4 separate regions of the Homo sapiens genome follow, and all the other regions are reported to be linked to region 3. The links are microRNA targets in miRTarBase. Many come from high-throughput screens and were not tested one by one. Region 3 holds a microRNA gene; each other region holds the end of a gene's coding sequence.
The links. The annotated mature microRNA hsa-miR-6857-3p reads UGACUGAGCUUCUCCCCACAG and lies in region 3 at 2,251-2,271, shown strand. An mRNA with a match to its seed (bases 2 to 7 or 8) in the 3' UTR can be bound and repressed. Matches are read on the target gene's strand: a 7mer-m8 pairs with bases 2 to 8, a 7mer-A1 pairs with bases 2 to 7 and ends in A, and an 8mer does both.

Region 1: the mRNA of KLHL38 is a reported target of hsa-miR-6857-3p. Seed matches in the 3' UTR shown: 7mer-m8 at 1,610-1,616.
Region 2: the mRNA of ANTXR2 is a reported target of hsa-miR-6857-3p. Seed matches in the 3' UTR shown: 7mer-m8 at 867-873 and 7mer-A1 at 3,406-3,412.
Region 4: miRTarBase lists ATP8B4 as a target of hsa-miR-6857-3p. Seed matches in the 3' UTR shown: 7mer-m8 at 1,617-1,623.

The regions. Positions count from the first base shown.
Region 1 is chr8:123,641,496-123,646,647 of GRCh38, reverse strand. KLHL38 (kelch like family member 38) reads left to right here. Exons shown (of 4, transcript NM_001081675.3): 4 at 620-2,206. The coding sequence ends at 909. Among named protein-coding and RNA genes, the nearest start is that of KLHL38, 9.7 kb to the left of the region's middle.
Region 2 is chr4:79,903,024-79,908,175 of GRCh38, reverse strand. ANTXR2 (ANTXR cell adhesion molecule 2) reads left to right here. Exons shown (of 17, transcript NM_058172.6): 17 at 709-5,152. The coding sequence ends at 747. Among named protein-coding and RNA genes, the nearest start is that of PCAT4, 78 kb to the right of the region's middle.
Region 3 is chrX:53,402,792-53,407,943 of GRCh38, reverse strand. It overlaps MIR6857 (microRNA 6857), which reads left to right and starts at 2,179; the gene lies at 2,179-2,271. SMC1A (structural maintenance of chromosomes 1A) reads left to right here. Exons shown (of 25, transcript NM_006306.4): 10 at 1,988-2,173; 11 at 2,272-2,451; 12 at 2,553-2,699; 13 at 2,795-2,932; 14 at 4,051-4,167; 15 at 4,272-4,378.
Region 4 is chr15:49,855,976-49,861,127 of GRCh38, reverse strand. ATP8B4 (ATPase phospholipid transporting 8B4 (putative)) reads left to right here. Exons shown (of 28, transcript NM_024837.4): 28 at 653-2,890. The coding sequence ends at 934. Among named protein-coding and RNA genes, the nearest start is that of DTWD1, 240 kb to the right of the region's middle.

The DNA of each region.
Region 1 (5,152 bases), not on the chromosome of region 3:
TAGCACTATCCCAGATACACGGTAAATAAAACATGTTTGCTTCTGCTTATAATATTAGCTACTAATAGTTTGTTTCTCTGTAATCAAATCATAGTGTCATGGTTAAGAGGACTGGTATTGGGGTCAGATGGAACTGGGCTCAAATCCTGGCTCTGTCACTAACTGGCTATATACTTTTTAGCAAGTTAAACATCTTTCTGTGCCTCAGTTTGTCCATCCATAAAACGAGGATCCTAAAAGTAACTACCAGATAGGACTGGTGTGGGGAACCCACTTCTGAGTTTCCAAAGGATTGTCATAGTTCTTGAGTGGGCATTTGAGAGAGGAAGAGGCCAATGAGGCTGAGAAAGTTACAGGAATCAGGAGGCCGCTCCCAATCTAAGAATGGCTTATATGCTGCCTTAACTTGGGGTGAAGGTCAGAGTCAGGCAGATTTGCGTGCCAGCCCCCACTCTGCCACAAAGCAGGCCTTGGCAGGTTAGCTCAACATCCCACGTGCTAGTTCAGAGCCCCAGCCTCAGCCTTACGCAGTGGCAGGAGTCAGACGCGTCCCAGGACTGCTGACCTCCAGTCCCAGATGAGCAACACTGAGCTTGCCCATGTGTCATTTGGTTTTCAGGTTACACAAGGAGGATTCTTGCTTATGACCCTCAATCCAACAAATTTGTCAAATGTGCGGACATGAAAGACCGGAGGATGCACCATGGGGCCACAGTGATGGGAAACAAACTCTACGTGACGGGCGGGCGGCGGCTGACCACGGACTGCAACATTGAGGACTCCGCCTCCTTCGATTGCTACGACCCCGAGACGGACACCTGGACATCCCAGGGACAGCTGCCGCACAAGCTCTTTGACCATGCCTGCCTCACTCTCCAGTGCATACCCCGCACGTCTGGCCTCCCATGAGGTCGACAAGAAACCTTCTGCCCTAGTCAAAATGCCTTCTGTCGCCAGGGACACAAACCCAGCTCCAAAGGGCTTAACCCTTAAAGGCTGCAGGGAGAGCTCACAAGACTGAGGTACCAGAGTCGGGAGGCCTGGAACTAGGCATTGCATTGCCAGAACTCTCTCTCTCCTTCTCTGCCTCTCTCCTTATCTCTCTCCCCCACCTCCATCTGTCTCTGTCTTTCCCCCTTCTTTCTTTCTCTCCCCTATCTCTGTCTGTCTCTCTCTCTCTCTCTCTCTCTCTCTCTCTTTTTCTTTTTTTTGAGATGGAGTTTCACTCTGTAGCCCAGGCTGGAGTGCAGTGGTGCTATCTCAGCTCACTGAAACCCCCACCTCCCAGGTTCAAGCGATTCTCACGCCTCAGCCTCCTGAGTAGCTGGGATTATAGGCATGTGCCACCAAGTCCAGCTAATTTTTGCGTTTTAGTAAAGACAGGGTTTCACTATGTTGGCCAGGCTGGTCACGAACTCCTGGTCTCAAGTGATCCACCGGCCTCAGCCTCCCAAATGCTGAGATTACAGGCGTGAGCCACCACGCCTGGCCTGTCTCCTTTCTGTCTCAGTTTCTGTCTCTCTTCTCTCTCTCTGTCTGTCTCCCCCTCTCTGCTTCTCTCTCTTCTCTGTCTCTCTGCCTCTCTCTGCCCCTCTCTCTCTCTCTCTCTCTCAGTCTCCCCTCTGTCTTCCTCTCTCTCATCCCTAGGTTTTCCTCTCTCTCTAGCAATCTTCTTCATTTACCCACACAGTGTGTGGACAATGACAAATGATAAACCCAGACTCATTTTCCAGCTTTATATCTTCAGGAGAGAACTTTGCCATTATCCATATATTAAACCTAAAAAACAATGCTTATGGGCCTCTTTTGAATTCCATGTCTACCTCTTGAGCCAATCACTGTTGCCAGGACTGGCTAGTCCTGGACCACATCCCCACAGACAGAGGTGGGGTTACCTGTTGTCACTGACAGCCCATCCAAACTGCATATAATGGGTTAGAAGCATTTCCCCAAAGAGAGAAATCCAGACAAAAACCACATCTGCCCAGGACACCACTGAAATCTGGAACAAGAGGGCTGAGAGAACCCAGAGGATTCCTGGAACTGCTTGGTCCAGGTGGCAGCGTGAGAAATTGGCCCTGACCTTGTTTTTCTGCATTCTATGGATGTAGTACATTGAAATTCCAGAGATATATGCACAATTCAGTATCTAATGTTTGTAAAATTATCCTGCATTGCCAGAATAAAGTTTGTTTCTGGTGCCAAATGATGTTTTTCTGCAGCCTCTGGGGAGCTATAAACCTGCATAATTAATCAGGATGTTCATTTTGGTCAGTGTTATGAGGATTGCTCTTCTGGGGAAAGTCAACAAATTCCTTCAGTGCTTACAGCAGTCATTGCCCTCAGATGCCAGGGCTGACTATCTCTATAGCTCCCGTTATCTCAAGGTGCCTCCCACACTGGCTCAGTCCCAAACACAGGAATAAGCTGAAGTGGAGAACAGCAGTTCTCAGCGCTGCCTGCACAACACAGTCATCTGGGAAGATGTTTGAAAATGGGGCCAGCTCCATTGGAGAAAAATGAATAGGGATGCTTTGAGGCTGGGGGCAGAACACTGTATTTTTTGAAAAGCTTCCCAGATTTTTGAAATGTACAGTCAGGGTCGAGAACCACCGCTCTGGTCAGCTGTGAGCACGGAAGACCTGCATGGCTGGTTTCATTCCCCTCCTGTCATGGTCAGCCCGTCTGAGCCTAACAATGTAAGCTAAGTCCTCTCCCCACCAACGGAAGCATCTGCCATCAGTCTTGCTGCCCTGAGCCTGGCACCAGAGTTCACTCCAGCTGTAGCCTTCCTCCCCATCTGGCTCTCCAGGTTCATGTTCTAGACTTTTCCTTCTTTCTAAGTTGTCTTTTTTGTACTTCAGATTCTCCTCCTGGGGTCTGAAGCTCTGCTCTGCTCCCCAGATCTCTTGGCTGTGGTTCAGAGACCCTGCTTGGATTGCCAGCCCTGCTCCTCAGCCTGGACACTGTCCCCTTAGCTTCTGGCTGGCATCTTGTTCCAACCTAGTCTCTTTAAACCCCCTCTATTCAGGCTCTCAGTCCCACCTCTATTAATTCACAGGACAGTTGATTGTTTAAAAGGGCATAGAACACTTCCCCTCTCTTTTGCTCCCTCTCATGTGAAATGCTGGCTCTCTAATATGGTTTGGCTGTGTCCCTACCCAAATCTCATCTTGAATTGTAGCTCCCATAATATGAGAGGACCCTGGTGGGAGATAATTGAATCATGGGGGTGGTTTCCCCCATACTGTTCTCATGATAGTGAATACGTCTCACGAGAGCTGATGGTTTTATAAAGGGTTTCCCTTTTCATTTGGCTCTCATTCTCTCTTGTCTGCCACCATGTAAGACGTGGCTTTCACCTTCCACCCTGATTGTGAGGCCTCCCCAGCCACATGGAACTGTGAGTCCACTAAACGTTTTTTTCTTTATAAATTACCCAGTCTTAGGTATGTCTTTATCAGCAGCATGAAAACGGACTAATACACTCTCCTTCCCCCTCCACCATGAATGGAAGTAGCCCGAAGCCCTCACCAAAAGCAGATGCTGGTGCCATGTTTCTTGGACAGCCTGTATAACCATGAACCAAATAAACCTGTTTTCTTTATTAATTCCCCAGCCTCAGGTATTCCTTCATAGCAGCCGAAAATGGACTAACACATCCCCTCTTTCTTTTTCACACTTGCTGTGCCCTCCCCTTGAAAACATTTGCCCCACACATCATACCCACATGGTTCACTCCCTCAACGCCCCCAGGTCTCTGCTCAAAGATGCCTTCCTTCCCTGACCACCCACCCTTCACATAACCCATCAACAGGTCCTGTCTGCAACACCCCTGGGAAATAGATCACAAACACCTCCAGCTTCTCCATCTTCACTGGTGCTTCCCCAACTCAAGCCATCCTCATCTGATCAGCCTCCAAAATGTGCCCCCTGCTTCCACTGCTACCCCATGAGCCTTCCTTGAGCAACAGTCAGAGTGATCTTTTTTTTTTTTTTTTTTTGAGATGGAGTCTTGCTCTGTGGCCCAAGCTGGACTGCAGTGGTGCAGTCTCGGCTCATTGCAAGCTCCGCCTCCTGGGTTCATGCCATTCTCCTGCCTCAGCCTCCCAAGTAGCTGGTACTACAGGCGCCTGCCACCACGCCCGGCTAATTTTTTGTATTTTTAGTAGAGACGAGGTTTCACCGTGTTAGCCAGGATGGTCTCGATCTCCTGACCTCGTGATCCGCCCGCCTCGGCCTCCCAAAGTGCTGGGATTACAGGCGTGAGCCACCACGCCCCGCCAGAGTGATCTTTTTAAAACACAGACCTGATCATGTTACGCCCGTGCTTAAAATGATTCCATGGCTTCTCAGAGACCTTTGCATAAAGCCCCCAATCCTTTATGTAGCTTCTAGTTCATTCCCTAATCCAGCACCCACCTATCTCTCTGGCCTCATCTTTTGCCACCCTCACTCCTTGAAGTTGTCTCAGGCCCAGCCATCCTTCTTTACTTTACACCCTCCTCTCTTTCCTCAGGGCCTTGGCATGTGCAGTTGCCACTACCTGATACACACCTCTCTTACCTCTTCACCCTACATAATTTCGACTTACACCTTGCACACCAGATTAAGAGTCACAGCATCAGGGGTGTCTTCCATGCTTCCCCCACTCCAGTTTGGGTCAGCTTTCCTATTAAATACCCCTATCATTCCCCCTTTTGTTTTTCTTGTTGTTGTTGGGTTTTTTTTTGTTTTTGTTTCTTGTTTTTTGAGATGGGGTTTCACTCTTGTTGCTCAGGTTGGAGTGCAATGGTGCAATCTCGGCTCACTGCAACCTCCACCTCCTGGGTTCAAGCAATTCTCCTGCCTTAGCCTCCCAAGTAGCTGAGATTGCAAGCATGCGCCACCATGCCCGACTAATTTTGTATTTTTAGTAGAGACAGGGTTTCACCATGTTGGTCAGGCTGGTCTCAAACTCTTGATCTCAGGTGATCCACCTGCCTCGGCCTCCCAAAGTGCTTGGATTACAGGCATGAGCCATCGCGCCCGGCCCCCTATTCTTCTCCTTTGAGACTCTTATCCTATTCGTAATTATTTGATCTCTGTTTTCCCCTCTAGACTTCTTATTCTGTCCTGTTCATCTCCGCATTCCCAGGGCTGCCCTCAGTGT
Region 2 (5,152 bases), not on the chromosome of region 3:
GTATCTTTTATCACTAATTGGAAACTTTGTTTTCAAATATTTCTTGGATTATTTACAATACACATGGAACAGTGTGTCCACACAACCTTCACAGAAGTGTTAAGAAATTAGAATGGCAAATCCTCTTTAGAAATGTGTAAGTGCAGATAGTCACCATTTGAAATGAACACATCATGGTGGTGTGCAGTGGTGAGAAATGGTCAGTAACAATGGACATGATTTTGCAAAAATCCTTCATAAAAGGGAATTACAAAGAGATGACAATACCTTTTTTGGGATTCCTCATCCTCAGTCTCTTACTGCTTACTAAATGTGATCCTCATGTATGCATTTTAGGAGCATCAGCTTGCATAAGAAAATATTTTCATTTTAATTCATTACATAAAGAAGTATATTGGGTTGTGGCTTTGATATTTTTATGGCCGTGATAGTAATGCTGTATTTTAGATAATAGTAACATTCTATTTCCATAATTGTTTTTCCATATTAATTATACCATACCATCTCATAGGTGAACTTACTGTGGAAAAGATCTGAATGAACCATCATGCTTTAACCCAAGAAAAAAAAATTATGACTTCATGTCTCAAGTTAACATGGTACTTTCCTTGGGTAATCATTTATTATCATGGTAGGAAAACTAGATGTTCTCATGCTTTTTTAAATAATGGCTTCAATATTTCAATATGGATTTATTTCTTTCTTCAGGGCCGGTGCATAAACTTCTCCCGAGTTCCATCTCAGTAAAAGGGAAGCAGGAAGACCAAGAAGGTACGAAGATGGCACATTTTCACATAGCTGATTTTCAACCAAATGAAAAAAATCAAGTGCATTTCAGAAGCTTTTGGAAGAGCAGCTTAATTCCTCTCAGTCGGGAAATGTTTTCTCTGCCTTCTGCTTTGCTTGCACCAAACATTTCTAAACACTTGTTCTGCCATCTACATGGGAGGTGATGAAACTCAGTGGTAACTCATGATTTATGACATTGAAAATAAAGAGGAACATTGACCTGCAGACTATGGTTTGTACAAGAAAGTTTGTTTGAATGTGTAGAAGAGGAAAAAGCAACAACAGCAACAACACGAAGATGATACCAAAACAAGGACCACAAAACAACTAGCCATGATGGGAGACAGGAGTTTTTTACATGGAAACATGGCACTTGTGTTTTTATGTGGCAAGATCTTTATCCATAGGCAGAGTATGAAATTTCCCACCAGGCTAAGCAAATAAAGAAGTCCATTGCCTTATAGCTATGTCAGATCACAGAATCCTTCCAAGTGCTCTATCACAGTGTGCCTTATGGGAAGTTTCTGACTGGAAAATCTTGTCATTCTAACACTGAAAAGTGCACACGCATGACAAAATGTAGACAAGATGCCTCAAGGTATTGGTAGCAAGCAAGATTTTGCCCTTTAGTTTTCGAAGACACCTTTCTTTCATTATGCACTCGGGACAAGAAAATTAATAGAGCGTTATTCCACAGAAGGCCTCTAGCCAGAGATCTTGAGTGTAGTGCAAGGGACTCATTTTTTGCGAACTTGTCCCTGTGACTAGTAGATTCCCCCTTTTCCTGTGTTTAGGATTTAGTAGTGCATAAAGCATTAATATCCATAAACATACCTAGAAGTTTGTTTTGCTTTTAATTTAAAGGAAGCAGTAACCACAAAGCTTCCGCTCAGGGTTTTTTCTTTCTTCAAGTCTCCAAGGGCTCTTCAGCGTCACAAGCCAGCAACTCTCTTTGCATTAAAATTTCAAAGTTTAATTAATATAATTAAAAGCAACAGCAAGCAGCAGCCTGTGAAGATTTTGCTCATCTTTTTTATGCCTTTTGACATTGAATGACCTATTACTGTATGCGCATTACTTGGATTTTGAGGGGCACTCTACCTTGGTTATGATTCAGTAGAGGAAAAAGACCACCTTTCTTCAATTTACAAATTAAATCTTCTGGAGGGTCGCTATCACAAAACATTGACGATGTATGTATTATAATTTTTTAGAAAAACCACCATCGTGTCACGTCGACGATGCCAAATTATGTTAGCGTGAGCAGAAACACCGTGGGGGAGGAAGGCAGCAGCTGAAGAAAAAAGCTCAAATGATCTAGTCACTTTCGATACTGTACTTCAGATGCGAAATGGATATTCGAGTGGAAACCTGACAAAGTGCGCCTGCTTTGATGTGAACTGGTATAGACAATGACCAGTGGCTGGGTCAGTGGGATGTCTCTCTGTGAGCACAAAGGCTTATCAAATGACACTAAAAATAAGTTCAACAACCATCACATTGGAAGGGAGAAGGCGAACATTTCATGTTTGGCGGGCATGTGAGTGCACAAGATGGAAAGAGCGATTGGAGCATCCTGGTATAATTACCCCCATTGTGCTCTTAATGGAAATTTCAAAGGACGGGAGTATTCTGTTGGTTGGTGTCCAGGTTTGTGGCACTGTTCCAAGAGGCCTTACACACACACACAAATATATAATTTTCTATACATATATATCCTCTAGCTTGAAACTTTTGCTCAAGTTTATTTATGTCACTGGCTGGCTGGATCCAAAGTCATGTGTCCACACATTCATAAATAAAAATTTTACCTATGCCTGTGCTACCATTTCTTTAAGCCCACATAAAGCTAATGCCTTCTTGGGTTGAATATGCAGTTGTTATGCTTAGTTTCAGGGATGGAATTCTATTCAGTTCCAAAATGTCCCTCATGTTCACAGATGATACTATTGGCAGTAGCTGCATATGCAAGTGTAACTTGGAAGCCTGATATAGTATACCCAACCCTTTCTGCAATGAGTTATTGTATCCCTTTGTTCTGCATTTGCATCTGGAACAAGACCTAATGTGGCTTCCTTAAATGGGCACTTCATTTCTGATGAGTGCACACCAATTATTGCTATTTTAATATCATTGAGAATACTACAGAAGCTAAGGCTATGTTTCTTTGGTAACTACTTCAAATTTCTCTAGAATTATGTAGCATACTTACATTTTGCTGCATGAACAATGAAAATTAACCTCTGCCTTTAAATGGAAAAATAACTTTCTGTAGATTGTTATACAGCTACTATGAAGAGCTCTTAATGAAGAGGAAGTGGCAGTGGTCTATATGTAGACTGAAAAAATATCATTAATAAAGTTCAAAGACTGATGGAATTTCATTGCCCTTAAAGATATGAACCAGATCTGTTTTATGCTTTTCTCCAATTATACTAACTAGCAGTTGAAAAGAATTTGTTTTGAAGAGTGTTATTTTCTTACCAAAAGACCAGATCAAAAATCCCTATACTTTTCCACCAAAAAAAGATTAAAATGAAGCCATTTCTATAAATTTAATGGCACTTTATATTTTATATAGAGAAATAGCTTCTGTTTGATTTTCTGGACACCATGTCAGTCAAGATCTACTTTCTGTGTAAAAATGAATAAGTCTTGCACATAATCCATTCGTGTTGCATAAGGTTGCAAAAACAATTAAGTGGGAAATGACTCCTAACTTATGTGTCTACTCTGCCTAGAAAGAAAGTTTTGAAGGCATCTATATATATTTCATAACAATGTCTGTTCTTTATGGATTTGATCCATAAATATTTATCTATCTGAAAACTTTGATACTTGGAATGTTTTCCTTAGAGCATTTGGTGCTCCAAGAAAAAACATTTGGTGCTAAGAGTTGCAGCACTGATGCCTTTCCCTAAGTTAATTCTATTTTAAAAATTTATATTTCCTTCCCAATGAGATGCAGAGTAAAATTTGAGACCCTCCATTGACTAGGGAGCAGCATCTGTCATCTATGGTTAATTACTATTTTGACAAAAATATAGAAGGTTTAAACCCCCATGTATTTCAGATTGTTAGAGAAAGAAGTAGTTTGCTTATATTTCCCTTGAACTTTATTCTAACCATTTAAATAATAAATTATTCAATATTTGTTATAATAAATCCTTACTAGATACAAGATTTGGGTGTTTCTGTGAAGTTAACTTTATTATCTAAATATCACTAACCATTGTTTACTGCTCAGAGGCAGATACATTTGTTTAGTTTAAAGTTGAAACAAATTCTATATTGTGGATAATTAGGTGTTTAAAACATTTTGATAGACCAGCTTATATATGTTATTTTTGAAATTTAAGAAGGCAGAATGTAATTAGGTCACATTTACAAGTAGAAGGAATTATAACTTCCTACTCCATGCATATATTGTATATTGGTTAGCTTTTACTAGCATTTTCTAGCATCACATTACTTTAGAAAGTTTTTGAGAGTTTCATTACTACTGGAAAAGTTTGGTGGGTATATGTACACAGGAAAGAAATATATGCATCATTTCAATATGAAAGGAAATACATAATCTAGAAACATAGAATAACTCTTGGTACATCTGTTACATAGTTAAGGAAAGAAACAGGCAGGTGAGGCTGGAGAATGTTGTCTATTTGTAGGAAATAAAGTCAGTGCAGACGCATATTCTAGTTTAGAGTTAGATTAATATTGTGCTTAGTGAATTTCTATGACATATTTCTGAGAACACTTTAATATATTTCCACACCTACTGGAATCTAATTCAGTCGATCGGATAAAAGAAAGACTTTTTTGTTGTTGTTTTTGAAAATCCATAATGTAGCAGGTTCTGCGCTGGTTTTTTAATGTATTTTATTTTTGTGCTCTCCTGCCAAAAGAAAAGGCTGATAAGTAAGTACACAGTACAACATGTAAATTTGTATAAAAATATGCTTGTTTAGATTGCTCTACAATAACTATATTAAGGTAAATTGTGTGTGTGTGTGTGAGAGAGAGAGAGAGAGAGAGAAACAGAGGGAGAATTGACTCAATGTGTTTTCTATGAAGAGTCTTAGCTTAGGAATCAGGTAACAGAGAGGTCCTAGACCATAGACCCAGCCATCAACTAGCTTGCTGATGTTGAACAGATCAACTCTCAACCATAGACTGAAGATGGAATGAAGATATCAAAAGTTCCTTTTAGCACTGACTAGATTTTTTTTCTTTTTTTTGAAACAGAGTCTCACTCTGTCACCCAGGCTGGAGTTCAATGGCATGGTCTGGGCTGACTGTAACCTCCTCTTCCTGGGTTCAAGTGATTCTCATCCCTCAGCCTCCTGAGTAGCTGGGATTACAG
Region 3 (5,152 bases):
TTAGAAAGATGATTCTGGATTCAGACACGACTGCCTGAAGTCATTGCTTGGGAACCAGAATAGGCTTTTCCTTGATAGCATGGGGGCTGTGTTCTTCTGTGAGATAGGAAAAAACCAAAGTGTTTTTTCTACTCTCACAACCAGCACAACACTTCACTTCTGACACCAGAAGTGTGGGGGTTTTTCCTCACACACCAAGCAATTCTCCAGCAGACACCAGCTGGGTGACCTATAATTCACTTCAGCTCTGACACTATTTATCTGGAGATAGCATCAGATCCTGTGGGTTAGGGGCTCAGTCCAAGACTTCAGGTGCCAATTGCAAGTCTCAGGTTGTGACTTGTGGTTCTGACTGACCTGCTATAAATTACAGTTCCCGAGAATCCCTCCCTGGGTTCGATTAATTTACTAGTGCAGCTCACAGAACTCAGGAAAATGTTTTACTTATGTTTACCCATTTATTATGAAGGATATTACAAAGGATACAGAGAACAGCCAGATGGATGCATAAGGCAAGGTATGGGAGAAGAGATGTGAAGCTTCCATGCCCAATCTGGGCAAGCCACCCTCCAGGTACCCCCACACAGGGGCTTCATTATGTAGTCATGATTGATCAGATCATCAGCCATCGGTGATCAGTTCAACCTTCAGCCCCTCTCCCCTCCTGAAGGTTGTAGGGGTGGAGCTAAGAGTCCCAAATCTAATCCTGCCTTGGTCTTTCTGGTAACCAGCCCCTATCCAGAAGCTATCTATGGGCCTCCAGCCATAATCATCTCATTAACATACAAAAGACACTGCTCATTCCTGAGATTCTAAGGGTTTTAGGAGTTGTGTGTCAGGAACTCACGGGTAGAAGACTAAATATATATTTCATAAAACCACAGTCCACTTTGATCTTCAAACACAGATCCCTTACATCAGAACAATCATGTAATAAATAGAAAGATGCTGGGAGCGGTAGCTCACGCCTGTAATCCTCGCACTTTGGGAGGCCGAGGCGGGCAGATCATCGGAGGTCAGGGGTTTGAGATCAGCCTGGCCAACATGGTGAAACCCCGTCTCTACTAAAAATACAAAAATTAGCCGGGCATGGTGGCGGGCACCTGTAATCCCAGCTACTCGGGAGGCTAAGGCAGGAGAATCACTTGAACCTGGGAGGTGGAGGTTGCAGTGAGCCAAGATTGCGCCACTGCACTTCAGCGTGGGCAACAGAGTGAGACTCCGTCTCCAAAAAAGAGTAGAAAGATACTGGCACATTACTAGAATCCCACTGAGTCATTAATTAATAATTAGTCTAGTCCATGATCATGTCATGTAAAAATGTCTCCTAGGGTGAGGCCATTCAGGTTTGCAGGCTTCTATTCAATCTTGTTAGGTTCCAAAACCAGGAGTGTTCTCGGCAAACATAGCTTCATACTTTCAGGCATCTGGGATAATTGTGCTAAGAGACAATATCATCTCTTGCTCTGAACCTCTTTTGAGGTGTTAATGTAATACTGAGTTTCCCTCATTACATAACTCATTTATTCATTTCTTTACCTCCCTTCTCTTACCCAAACTTTTCCACCTTTCAAAGGGACGTTAGGATTGGCCACTGTGCTGATCTGGAGTGCACACAGCAAGCTAGTCTGCAATTGCCTCCTCCTCAGTCCATACAGTCTCATTCAGATAGGGTAGGGTTGCATGGGTACAGAACTAGTGGGCTGTCTTTTTTGTTTGTTTTGAGACAGGGTCTCATTATGTTGCCCAGGCTGGTCTTGAACTCCTGGGCTTAAGCTGTCCTCCCATTGCAACCTCCCAAGTAGCTAGGATTACAAACACACACTACCATGCTTGGTATTGGGTTATCTTAACCACTAGGCAATACAGTTGCATTCACTTCCTGATATAGATTCTAGTCTGTCCCCCTTTCCATACTGGGAATTAGGATTCCTGAGCCAGCTTCCAAAAGCTTCATACTTCAGTTTTCCCTTCCTACTTTACTCAGTACGGCCGCCTCATTGACCTATGCCAGCCCACACAAAAGAAGTATCAGATTGCTGTAACCAAGGTTTTGGGCAAGAACATGGATGCCATTATTGTGGACTCGGAGAAGACAGGCCGGGACTGTATTCAGTATATCAAGGAGCAGCGTGGGGAGCCTGAGACCTTCTTGCCTCTTGACTACCTGGAGGTGAGGCTTGTTGGGGATTGGGTCAGGCCAGTGTTCAAGGGCCCCTCCTCTAGTACTCCCTGTTTGTGTTCTGCCACTGACTGAGCTTCTCCCCACAGGTGAAGCCTACAGATGAGAAACTCCGGGAGCTGAAGGGGGCCAAGCTAGTGATTGATGTGATTCGCTATGAGCCACCTCATATCAAAAAGGCCCTGCAGTATGCTTGTGGCAATGCCCTTGTCTGTGACAACGTGGAAGATGCCCGCCGCATTGCCTTTGGAGGCCACCAGCGCCACAAGGTGTGGATTCCCTTGCCCAGGCTGGAGCTGGACAGGCTCAGTACTGGAGATTCATTTGTTCAGCTTCTCCCCCTCTTCTCTCTTCCCCCTGCTGTGTGTAGACAGTGGCACTGGATGGAACCCTATTCCAGAAGTCAGGAGTGATCTCTGGTGGGGCCAGTGACCTGAAGGCCAAGGCACGGCGCTGGGATGAGAAAGCAGTAGACAAGTTGAAAGAGAAGAAGGAGCGCTTGACAGAGGAGCTGAAAGTAAGCCACAGGCAGTGCTGTTTTTAGCAGTGGGAGTCCTAAGCCTAGGTCAGCCACCACCTTACCACCTAGCCCTTCTTTCTTGTTCCCTTCAGGAGCAGATGAAGGCAAAACGGAAAGAGGCAGAGCTGCGTCAGGTGCAGTCTCAGGCCCATGGACTGCAGATGCGGCTCAAGTACTCCCAGAGTGACCTAGAACAGACCAAGACACGACATCTAGCCCTGAATCTGCAGGTGGGGCCTGGCCTTCAGCCCTGTTCTCCAAAGGCCATCCACACATTCCTGGCCTAGGTTTCTCTGGGGGTGGGGAACTTGTTTCACTTCCCCGTCTCCTCCCAGCCTGCCGCAGGGAGTCAGGTATAGCATAGAGTCAGACAGCCAGGGGTTCAGAGCTTGGCTCTGCCTTGAGTTTGACATTAGGCAAGTATTTTCACCTTTCAGTGTCAACCTTCACATCTTTATCTGTGAAATGCGAGTTAAGATGATACCTACTCGGCCGGGCACGGTGGATCACCTGTGGATCACCTGAGGTCAGGAGTTGGAGACCAGCCTGGCCAAACCTGTCTCTACTACAAATACAAAAAATTAGCTGGGCGTGGTGGCAGGCGCCTGTAATCCCAGCTACTTGGGAGGCTGAGGCAGGAGAATTGCTTGAACCCGGGAGGTGGAGGTTGCAGTGAGCCGAGATCATGCCATTGTACTCCAGCCTGGGTGACAGAGCGAGACTCTGTCTCAAAATAAATAAATGATACCTACTTTATAGGGTCATTATTGAATGAGTTAACATGTAAAGTGCTTAAGACTACCATGTGTTCAGTTTATGTTATGTGCTATTGTTAGCATAATTTATTCATTCAACAAATTTGAATTTTTGAAAGTGAGCTATGGGCATTTCAGTCCCTGCTTGTGGTAGTGGGCGGGGCGGGGGGGGACTGTTCTAGGTATATTAATGTGTTTTGTTTTTTTTACTGACTACTTCCCCAGACCGCCCTAGAGGTTTTATATGTAGTGTGTGTATTTATATATCTTTTTCTAAACTCAAAAAATCTAAACTGAATTCTGAAACAACTCTGCCCCCAGGGGTTGTAGATCAAAGACTGGGACCTATACCTAATGATGTTTACTGTGTCCCCAGCCCTGTGGATTGAAGCTGGCTGAACTGGATGCCAGGGAAGAAGCCATGTGATGGCTTCAGTGCAACATCATGGAGGCTTGACTAGGGCAGTAGTGCTAAGCCAGGTTCTCTCAGTTGTGGAGAGCTAGCCCTTCCTGACTGTGGGGCCAATGCAGTCAAGGTAGCTTTTTCTCCAAGGAGCCTGGTCTGCTTTGTCCTCTCAACCCATTGCCTGTAGGAAAAATCCAAGCTGGAGAGTGAGCTAGCCAACTTTGGGCCTCGCATTAATGATATCAAGAGGATCATTCAGAGCCGAGAGAGGGAAATGAAAGACTTGAAGGAGAAGATGAACCAGGTTGGTAGGGTGTGGGCCATGCCAGCGTGTGTGTCAGGGCAGGACTGGGACTGGAAGCAGGACAGACTAAAAGGGCCGATGCCCTCCCTGGCTTCTCTTCTCAGGTAGAGGATGAGGTGTTTGAAGAGTTTTGTCGGGAGATTGGTGTGCGCAACATCCGGGAGTTTGAGGAAGAAAAGGTGAAACGGCAGAATGAAATCGCCAAGAAGCGGTAGGTGGGAGGATTGGTAGAAGAGATTGGCATGCCCTTGAGCCTCTAGCTTGACATCCTTGGAAAACCAGATGCTGTCATAGGCAAGGGTCAGCTCTTAGAACTATGTGAGTTTATGTAGCTAGGCCTTAAAGAACAGAAATCAGGAGGGCAGTATGGCATAGTTATAGTGGTTAAGAGTGCCAACTCTAAACTTGATTTTCTGGATTCCTGGATTACAACCCCAGCTCCACAACTCGTTATCTTTGGCAGTGACTTGACTTCTGTAAGCTGCAATATCTGCAAAATGGTATAATGATACCTATCTCATGGCATTGTTGGGAGGATTAGGTGAAATAATTTTTTTTTTTTAAGATTACCTGTTTTACCTTTTTTTTTTTTTTTTTTTTTTTTTGACACAGGATCTCACTCTGTTTCCGAGACTGGAGTGCAGTGTCAATCTTGACCTTCCCAGGCTCAGGTGGTCCTCCCACCTCAGCCTCCTGAGTAGCTAGGACTACAGATGTTTGCCACCACGCCCGGCTAATTTTTCTTTTTTTGTTTTTTGTTGTTGTTGTTATTGTAGAGATGGGGTTTTGCCACATTGCCCAGGCTCGTCTTGATCTCCTGGGCTCAAGTGATCCTCCTGCCTCAGCCTCCCAAAGTGCTAGGATTATAGGTGTGAGCCATATTGCCGGCCCTTTTTTTTTTTTTTTTTGAGACAGAGTCTTGCTCTGTCGCCCAGGCTGGAGTGCAGTGGCATGATCTCGGCTCACTGCATTCTCCACCTTCCGG
Region 4 (5,152 bases), not on the chromosome of region 3:
AACAAACCTCAGGTCTTTTTCTCCTTAGCTTTACAGGGAAATGAAAGAGTACAGCAAACCTCAGGTCTTTTTCTCCTTAGCTTTACAGGGGAATGAAAGAGTTGTGGGAAACCTACTCACATAATAGGGAACATTTAGAAAGGCCATACAAACCTAAGAAATCAAAACCCTGGAAGTCTCATGATACGTTGAGCTACCACAAGAATTGAATATTTCTGACTCATTTTCTGAATTTTCTTCTAGTCCAGTTACTGACAACTGTTGGATCCAGAGAATCTCTAAAAGAGAGGAAAAAGGCTGTTTTGGGAGAATGAAATTATAAATTATTATGCTGACTTTGGGCGGTGCATGTTAGAAAATCTTTCTATACAAATGTATGCTCATATGCATTGAAGATACATGAGAGACAATAATGAAATTTGTCTGATATTTCTTAATTACTTAATAGTGTCTCGATAGAGATAAAAATGGACCAGTGCCCCCCCAGTGTTATCTTTTGGGTGGAAAATTTCTTAGTTTTTAGATTTAAAACTTCCTTTTGCAATGTTGTTTTTACTTATAAAAAAAAAAGGCTTTCACTTTACAAAGTGGGCCACTGCCTGGAGTCTATCATTTGGATGCATCATCTCACTTTGGGTCTGTTTCTCTCCAGATCCGCCGGTGGCAGAAGGCTCAAAAGAAGGCAAGGCCTCCAAGTAGCCGAAGGCCTCGGACCCGCAGGTCAAGCTCAAGAAGGTCTGGATATGCTTTTGCTCACCAAGAAGGCTATGGAGAGCTTATCACATCTGGAAAAAATATGCGAGCTAAAAATCCACCCCCAACATCAGGGCTGGAAAAGACACATTATAATAGCACTAGCTGGATTGAAAATTTATGTAAGAAAACCACAGACACCGTGAGCAGCTTTAGCCAGGATAAAACAGTGAAACTGTGAGTCAATATGAATTTAAACCACGTAGTTATCTTTTCACTTCAGGTGGAGCTGAAATTCTGCTGGCTCCAGAGTTTGAGATTTGAGGCAAGAGGTGGGGCAGGCAGATTGCCTCACTTAACTTAAATCTGCGGCAGACAACTGCCAGTGCCCATCAAACAGGAGTGTGCGCTATGGAAAACCAGGCCAGAGGGTCACTGTCTGGTTTGTGATTTGGTGGACAAAACACTCGCTGTTACAAGTACAGATTTTTTTTTTTTTTAAATCAACCTAGATACCAATTGACCTGAACTTTAGAATCTTATTTATGGAGAAAAACTTGTAAAGCTGCATATTCACTGAATGGATCCTCAGGCGGATAAAAGGGTGCATTTTAAAGGTATATATCCAAGCTGAAAAGCATGCCTATTGACAGATAAACATGTATCTGTAAGATCAGCCTTTCCCAAGGTATACTTTTAAAATTTAAAGCGTGTACTGTGTTGCTTTCAGACTGAGTTGCATGTCACTCTTTAGTCTTGATATCTACCTGTCTGTTCAGCCAGGACAACAAATGGCTTCCAAGCCTGAAGAATACAAAAGTGTGCTTGTGTTTCTCATTTTTATACCAGTCTAGGGACAAAGGAGACTGAACATCTTTGCAGCAGGATAGGCTGGTAATTTGATCAAATTTATTCAAAAAGCTCTCAGTCTGTGTCATGTAAGGACATGCTTATGAAATGTGAGAGAGGCTCGCCACTAAGTATTCTAAATACTTTTCAATGGCTTTTCTAACAACCTCAGTAGTAATTTGCTGAGCATCATCCAGACCATTAATAGAATCAGCAAAGCACTGGAATTTCACACTTTAATGATAATATTCCACATAGTCTATGGGCAAATATTTTCAACATTTCCAATTTTTAAAGCTTCAGAATTGAAGCCAAACAAATTAATAAATAATTGTTTTAATTACTATTTAAAAACTCAGGTTTAGATTGTTTAAAATTAGTTGCTTTTGATACTCAGCTGTCATGTTTATAATTCAAACATGTAGTAAACATATGTAGGTAAGGTTGTTTTTTTGGAGATGTTGCAGCTCAAATTTCAGTCCACATATGAATCATCAGTGTATTTTCCATAAAGTGATTCGGGCATATTTGTGTGAAAACCTCAGTTCTGTCACTTCTTACCTCTATAAACTTGGACGATAATGTGCCTTCTCTGAGACTCAGTTTCTTCCTCTGTAAAATGAGGACATACTACCTACCTCATGTGGTTGGTTGATGATTGTCTGTCAAAGCACAAACTCTGAAATTATTAAAAACATAATTATTTCATAAACAGATGAGTTAAGTTCCAGTTAACTCAACATCAGTATAACAGAGCAATTGGAAGAGAATATGAAAAAACTGGAATCTAAATAGTCAGTGAGGAAGGCTTTGATAAAATGAAATTGCCAGAAAGATATAAAACTGGTTAGGGTCCTACAGGGAAATAAAATTATAACCGTGGAGGTACATTTCTCTACCAGAAAGCAAAAATAAAGCATCATGTCTTAATGGTTTTCTACAAATCAACTTCTAATTCTACAGAGTCCTTAATCTGGTCCCTATTAAATTCTTGGTCAGACAAAGTTACATTTCCCAAGAGAGTCAGGTGACACTTGAGTGAGTTTGATGGATAATGAGCTAATGTGATATCTATAGGTCACAATTTTTTAAAACCAAAATTTTCAAGTCTGGGATAATCTTTCCTAAATGGGATCAAATGAAATAATATGTGTAAAAGAGTCAAATGCAGTCCTTTACCATAGTAACTGCCTATGGACGTTGTCTTTCCCTTACATGCCTGCCTACACTTAACCAGATGTTGGTTTTCAATGTCTAATTTGTCATTAGTTTCACCACATTTGCTCACTTTTTGTAACATTTTTGCAAGATTTGAAAACTTTCAGTAAATGTTTTGGCACTATTGGTACTTGATGTTTTATCTCTTCTTTATGGGAAATTCATTGGGGAGATTTTTGTTACATTAGTCCACGGGTATTTTTTTCTCTCCTTTACATGCTGGGGAAAATGTACTCATTCTTAGAATCAGAGTCAAGAATAAAATGAAACAATTGGACCTATGTGTAAGGGATAGGAAAGATTAGAAGTGGTCCAATTTTGCAAGTCCAGTTTAAATTAAATAAGGCTGTTTATAAACAAATAGTGTGGATGATTGTGAGAGAAACATATTATCAGCTTACTTTGGCCCCATGAGATCCAAGTAAACTCACACACCCATTGCGAGATCATTCAATTACAAGCGCCAGGGATTATTTTGAACCTGAAGATGAAAAGTGATGAGAGGTGGGTAGTGATGGTGGGGGCACTGGGGAATAATAACATTTTAATTTTACATAAATGTTATCAAATTATTTGGAAAGAAAAACTATTTTTTCTAGATTTAAGCTGATAATCTTGTGTTTTTAAAATCTCAGCCCAAGTTTTGAGCTATTATAGGTAATTGCAAATTGTGTTTCCCTGACTTAGCTCTGCTATCTTTGGCTCTCTCCTCTGCCTCCAGATGTATATACTTATGAAGGAAAGAAAGAGAGAGAGGAAGGAAGAAAGTAAGACAGATAAAGCAAGAGAGGAAAAAGTAATGGAGGAAAGGATGGTGGGAGGGAGAAAAGAGTTTTCCAGTTATATGTTTTTTTGAGATAATCTGACTCTCTGAAAAATAAATGTAATCCCTCAAAGAAAAAAAAAGTGGATTATATTTGACTCTTGAATAGTAAAATTTCCTTCACATCTTGTGTGAGAACAAGAAAATCTTACCAGAATGGGGGCCGGGAGCCCTGGCTTCCTGTCACAGTGATGGTGCTGATCTGTGTGAGCTGGGGCATGCCACCTGACTTCTCCAGGCCTTGGTGTCCTTGTCCATTGATAGAGAAATTGGGACAGGATGGTCTTAAAGCCCTTTTCTCATTTACCCAATCTGTGAGCTGTTCTTGTCAGTGTTGTCTGTTGTGTATTTGCAATTGCCTTTGTTAGAGAGACAGATTTTCTATATATATATATATATAGAGAGAGAGAGAGAGAGAGAGAGAAGAAACTGACTTGGATGTTCTCTTGAGGGCAGGGCCTGGCTCTTCAGGCTGTTGTACTGGTTTGTATTTCTCTAGACTAGCCCCTGATGCACTGCTGTCTCTGGCTTTTCTCTCAGCTCACCACAGAGCTGCTAAACCCTGTGGTGGCATTTTACCTGGGTCAGTTGAATGCTGTTTCTTGTTAATGATTCATGAAGGTATCTCCACACCCTCCTTTCCTCTCTCATCATTTTGAGTAACAAAAGTATCCAGATGTGAAGGTAAGATACTCATGTCCTGTTAAGAAGAGCTCATTTAAAAGTCCTCCCTACCTTGAATCTGGGCTTAGAGGAGATTCTTTGAGCCTTTGTTCCCTTGGGACCGAAGTTGAAGCAACAGAGCTTGAACAATTTTCTTCATAGTTATAGAGCACTTTGCAGTTTGTGTATCATTCTTACATAAACTGTATTGTGTCTGTGTAGATGTAAAGTGTGCAGATTTAGGGAAAAGTGTAAATAAATGTAAAAATGTTCAGAAATATATGTTTCAAATGTTCTTTTACCTTTCAGTGCAAATAAGAAAAATCTCCCTTCCTTCCTTCCTTTCCTACAGCATTTAGTGACGTCAGGTAGGTGTGGAAGGCAAAGGAAATAAAAATGTCTCAAACTATTTCTAAAAAGTCACTAGGAAATCCAACTAATGAGAAAAGCTCTACTTCTGATTTTTATGGTAAGAAATTGAATTACTCTGTTAGTGTGTGCACAAAATGCCTCAAGATTGATATAATCTAATTATCTCAGTTATATGACTCAGAATTATTATTTTACACTACAAAGAGTAGGCACAAAGTTAATAGTGTAGGAATCCAGGAATAATGATGACTTACAGACTTTGTGATGGAATTCTGCAGGCCATGGGTCAGATAACCGTGTGGGGGGGGGGGGTCACAATTTTCCAATTTTTACATTAACATCTGGTATTAAATGTCTGCAGTTTGCTCTACTGCGTCACATTTCATTCCTTGGTGAGAAATCATAAGCTTTTGCAATTCTCTAGCCTAAGCCTTTAGCTGAACTGCCTGGAAGCCAGAACTAAATGACCCACGTATTACCAAATGTGTATTGCAAAAGATTTGGAGGACCTTGCTGGGCTAATCTGTAGTTTGG